Linked DNA regions of Homo sapiens: region 1 is linked to region 2. Evidence: fine-mapped expression QTL. A gene starts in region 2. The other region holds a variant in brackets. All regions are shown on one strand. Distances are from middle to middle.

What was found. PIP is the estimated chance that this variant, and not a neighbour inherited with it, causes the effect. A credible set is the group of variants that fine-mapping cannot tell apart.
Region 1: its variant is the best candidate, but not a certain one, in a credible set for the expression of CYP2R1 in monocytes (TOPMed, PIP 0.65).

What each region holds. Positions count from the first base shown.
Region 1 is chr11:14,538,562-14,541,588 of GRCh38, reverse strand. It overlaps a transcript of PSMA1 not described here. Among named protein-coding and RNA genes, the nearest start is that of PSMA1, 20 kb to the right of the region's middle. The variant T/C (reference allele first, on the strand shown) is at 1,616.
Region 2 is chr11:14,891,000-14,893,499 of GRCh38, reverse strand. It overlaps CYP2R1 (cytochrome P450 family 2 subfamily R member 1), which reads left to right and starts at 1,269. Exons shown (of 5, transcript NM_024514.5): 1 at 1,269-1,519. The coding sequence starts at 1,295. It also overlaps a transcript of PDE3B not described here. RefSeq lists a silencer at 1,522-1,761.

The DNA.
Region 1 (3,027 bases), 350 kb after region 2:
AGAGTCAAGGCTCCAGAGCCCTGCCAATTAGTTAAAGGTCAGCACGGAAGGGACTGTCTGTGAGAGGACAAGAAAGCTGAACTTCTCTTGAGCCAACTCAACTGGATGGCAGCCAATCTCTATCTCTTTCCTGGGCCAGAGCAGAGCTCCCCCAGTTCTGTGTGCGCCTGCACAAAGACGAATATGTTCTGTACAAATAGGGTCTAGTTTTACCTTAGGTGAATAGACTGAGCCTGGGGGTCAAGGGACAGAGGACAGAGAGGACCAAACTGGTGTTTGCTGCGTCAGAAGCATACAGGCTTATTTGGAAAGACTGAAACTAAATAAAGACTTCTTATTAGCATAGGACTAGAGTTGTGAAATCTGGTCAAAGGGTTTTATGCAAGGATGCCTTTTATATATTCTCATGTTAATGTGGAAAAGTAGAAAAATACAACATTTTAATTAGGGGAGAAAACTATTGTTATATATAACTTTAGAACATTTTTCTTTTTTTAAAAATTATGCTTTAAGTTCTAGGGTACATGTTCACAACGTGCAGGTTTGTTACATATGTATACATGTGCTATGTTGGTGTACTGCACCCATTAACTCGTCATTTACATTAGATATATCTCCGAATGCTATCCCTCCCTCCTCCCCCCACCCCACAACAGGCCCTGGTGTGTGATGTTCCCCTTCCTGTGTCCAAGTGTTAACTTTATAACATTTTTCATACCAGGAACTTTTTTTTCTTTTACACTAGAACATGGGAGTGATACTCCCAAGTTTTTGTCCCCCATCCCAAAATGACAGGGGAAGTAAAATTCTTTTCACAAAAAGTGTACCTTTTTTAAAAAGAACAGTAAGCCAGCATTAGATGACTTATTCTAAAACAATCTTCTTCTTTAACTGGGCTTTTCTGCAGATTTTCTAAGAGGAAAAGTTGATGTTTAACTCCACATGTTCCTTTTTTACGTTCACAATTTTTTTTCACATTTCCTTTCTGATAGGAGTAGTATTTTATTGTTGTGTGAAAACCCAATTGCAATCCATCAGGTATCAGCTTTTAGTAAGGTAGTATGTGTAGAACTGAAAAACAGACATTTACCTCCAGAAATGAAGGGCTTTTTTGATCTTTCTGCATTTAGGCGATCTCAGTTTATTTTCTGGAAGTGTGCGCTGAACCATAAGCAATATCGTATCTCTCCTGAGGACGTAATGTTTCCTAAAAGCCTGTCTAGTTCACTGTGTTTTTCAGAGGGAAAAATCCTGAGGACTGGATCCAACTGGGAGGAGTGTCACCCAGGGTGGCCTGAGACAACGTAGCTGGATGGAGAGTTCCAGTTTTCATCATCTTAGTTGCAAAAAGACAAGGTCACCCACAGAAGGCAACTTTGTGCATTTGTGGGCCAGGCAAATGCAGAGAGCAAGTAGGGAAGCTGAAAACAAGGGAGTGAAGATCTGAACAGAGCTGGGTGGGTAGAGAGGGTCAAGGGAAACATTTCAGTTCTGAAGCCACAAATGGAAACCCTGTGCCAGAGTGCCCCTTTTATGTTAGTGGTGGAGAGAGGTTCCTGCTGCTTAGAGTAGTCACGCAGCACTACAGGCTAAATGCTGCAAATCTATAGTGATA[T/C]CAGGTCTATTTTTATTCTCTCATTTATATGTTTCCTTTTTATCTTAGCCATATAGGATTTTTTTATCCTTTATCTTCCTCCTGTGGGTCCTGTTGTTGTTTTTTTTTTCTTTGTTTGTTTGTTTGAGACGGAGTCTCGCTCTGTCACCCAGGCTGGAGTGCAGTGGCGCAATCTCGGCTCACTGCAAGCTCCACCTCCCAGGTTCACGCCATTCTCCTGCCTCAGCCTCCTGAGTAGCTGGGACTATAGGCGCCTGCCACCACGCCCGGCTAATTCTGTTTTTGTATTTTTAGTAGAGACGGGGTTTCACCATGTTAGCCAGGATGGTCTCCATCTCCTGACTTCGTGATCCGCCCGTCTCGCCCTCCCAAAGTGCTGGGATTACAGGCGTGAGCCACCGCACCCGGCCCGTGGGTCCTGTTCTTAAGCTCCACTCTTTATAACTCTAGTTTGTTTTGGTTTTTAAAATTATTTTTTTCTTCCTTTTTTTCCTTTAAGAGCTTTCTAAAAGCTGGCACTTTGGTAGATTTCTTTTTTTTCTTTGTTCACGTAGTCTGATCTGGAAGCCAGGACTTTATGTTGGCCTGGATTTGTCAGGTCTCTAATCAACTCTGTGTAAAGTGGAATAGCTTGGCAACAGGCATAATAATAATAATTAAAAATAACAGTGACTGCAGAACTAAGACATGAGATTCAAAAATAAGGGGGAAAGTGACACAGAGTCATAGGCTTTCATCTGAAAATATCTCATTCCGGCCAACTGAGAAGCACCCTTGCAAATCAGTTAGAATATCTCTCTGTGTAGAAAAGGAAAGCCAGAGAGAAATGTTGCCTTCAAGTGTAGTTTGCCTGTGTATTACCTTCTGTTGAAATTCCCACAGACAAATAAGCCTTTGAGAACCCATAAGAAAACAATGGCTGCCACTAGTAAGATTTCCAAAGGTACTTTTAAAACATGGAGTAGATTTGTTTTTCTGTCCCAACGACTTCAGAGAAGTTCCCACTTAAATCCATGCATGGTCATTTTATATCTGCCATTACATATTCTTGTTTGCTAAATGTAAGTCTTGTCAATGAGTTATTTTAAAAAGTACTTTTTGAAATTACGCACACCCCAAACAACAGAACTGCTGTGTGTATACAAATGCTCTGGAAAGGCAGAAGTCAGGTACTGGGTGTAGGCACAGGACAGACCGCATGGTCTGCCTTGGCAGCCCTGTCCTCACCTGCAAGCTGCCCACACACACTCCCTTCCAAACGGTGCTCCCTCTGATGCCACTTGGCTGACTGAGCTACTGTGGGAGGAAGCCTGTGAAGGGGTTGGTGGTAGTGATGTGAATAAATATTTTATAAACTAAACTTCAAGTATAAAACTTGATTTACCCTTTCAACCAAATTCACATGGGAAGTC
Region 2 (2,500 bases):
TTTTGGACTTCTCACCTCAAGAATTGTAAGAAAATAAATTTGTGTGGTTTTAAGCCATCAGATTGGTGGTAATTTATTACAACAGTAGTAGGAAACAAATACACTTCTTTAGCAGTTGATCTCAGCTCCAATGTCATCTTCCTAATAAGACTTTCCTTGACAGCCCTTGCCTGCTAAAGTATCTCCCCAACCACCAGGCGTTTTCTATAACGCACTTTTTGTTTGCTTCTGATTATTGAAAATTATTGTATTTCCATGTCATTGCTCTTCCCTCTCATAAGAATGTAAGTTATAGAAAGGACTTTGTTGCTCTTATTCACCTATGTATCTCCATTGCTTAGGACATGGGAACATAGTAGACATTCAATAAATATTTGTTGTGTGAATGAGTCGTAAGCTAATGAGGACCATAAAACTCATGCCACTGCTAAATCACAATTAGAGGGCAGCTGTTAGAAGAGTCCCAAACCCAGTAAGTCCTGTATTGCAAGGAACTGCCCAATAGAAAACAGGAATAAAAACAATTAGCAAGAATAATATGAAATCAGTTGCTTAATTCCAGGCAGTGGAGGCAGAAATCTTGAATAGTAAATACTCTCCGTGAACAAGTGCAGACAAGAGTCCCGTGATTGCCAATAAGTAATCAGTTTGGAAAGACCAGAGAGGGGTCAAATATAGGTAAACTGAGTTAATCACATAAACTGCTCAATCATCACAATTATTAAAAGATCACACACAAAAATACATTAACAGGAGAAAAATAGTAAAACAGGACAAAACAGTAAAATTACTTTCTTTTACTACTGATGGGTCAATTTTCTACTGGAAATTCTGAAAAGTATCAGGTTCAGCTAAAGACTGCAGTGTTGATCATCTCTCCAGTTTTCCTAGTGTGAAATGAAATAAGCAGACCTGGTACTTAAAAAGACACTTTAAGAAAGGTCTGGCCCCAGAGAGGCAGGATCCGCCTAGCCCAGTGAGTGAGGCCGTCCTGACACCTCGTCAATGCCCTTGTGTCAACATTCTAGAAAACGGACTCCTGGCTCATTGCTCCGCCTAGAGCCGCGCCACCTCCAAAGGGTAGCACCGGCCACCCGCTCCGCAAAGTCCACTCTCAGCCGCGCAAAACTAGAAGGTAGTTGTCCCGAAGGGGCCTGAGCGCTCACTCAGTCAGCCAATGGCCACGGAGCTAGGGCGGGACCTGAGGGTATCCTGCCAATGGGAGTATGGCAGGGCTGGAGGGAGTGCCTGGGTCTCAGGGCTGCTGTGGAGTTCGCACCTCCAGCTCGGGCCGATGTGGAAGCTTTGGAGAGCTGAAGAGGGCGCGGCGGCGCTCGGCGGCGCGCTCTTCCTGCTGCTCTTCGCGCTAGGGGTCCGCCAGCTGCTGAAGCAGAGGCGGCCGATGGGCTTCCCCCCGGGGCCGCCGGGGCTGCCATTTATCGGCAACATCTATTCCCTGGCAGCCTCATCCGAGCTTCCCCATGTCTACATGAGAAAGCAGAGCCAGGTGTACGGAGAGGTACAGCCCCGACGGGCCCCGGGCAGGGAGGGCCGCCAGGCTGGCCCGGGCTGGCCAGGGCCTTCCTGGTTGGACTTATGGCCGCCCCTGGGCCGACTAGTCGGGACCTCTCCGTGTGCCGGCTGCCCTTTGAGGGACACCCGCTTCCCGGGTCTGGAAGGGAGAAGTCCTCGACGCCGTGCCCCCTTGCAGGGGGAGCCCCGCCCCTGCCGGTGACCCACTCCGGGCCGAGGCTCCGAGGCGATCCAGTCCTGATTTTCCCGCTACCGCTCGAGCTCTTGCTCCTGCGCCTGCGCCGTTTGGCTCGCCAGCCGCGCCGCCACTTCAGGTCCAGGGTGGACGCATGCCCTCAGGTGCGGGCGTCTTGCGAGTCGGCCTCGCAGCTCTGTGGAAGCTGCACGCGGCTTGTCGGAAAATCAAGGCGTTCTGAGTTCTAGATGGTTAATAGCAGGTTCTTCGGTGTCTGCAGTCGACGAACGACTGGTGTAGGCGTTTGCTGTGAGAATGGAGAATGCAGGGGAACGCCCCTGACTGAGAAGCGGGCCCTGGGAAACGATTGTGAACGCGTGAATGAATTGATGACTAAAATCCGCTGCGGGGGTCCTACAGCGCAGATGGTAATGCCGTTCTGACTGGCTGGGAACGGCACCTTAGCAGATACTTAAAAGGCGCCTTCTGTGTGCCACTGTCACTGCCAACTTGGTGACTCATTTAAAACTCATAACCAGCCGGTGAGGTCGGTACTTCGCTCCTCCTCATTCTGCGGAGGGGAAAGCAGCACGGAAATGCCCTGTGACTGGCAGCGGAAAAGGCGACCACCGCTTGTGTGTGGGTGTCCCGACGTCCGGAGGGGGCAGGAGTTTCCACGGGTCCTGGGACAGAGCTCACCTGTTTTGTTTTGAATTACACTTATTTATATGCAACTACAGGCCTGACGCTAGCGGTGAAGAAGGCAGATACAGCCTTTTAAGGAGTTGGCAG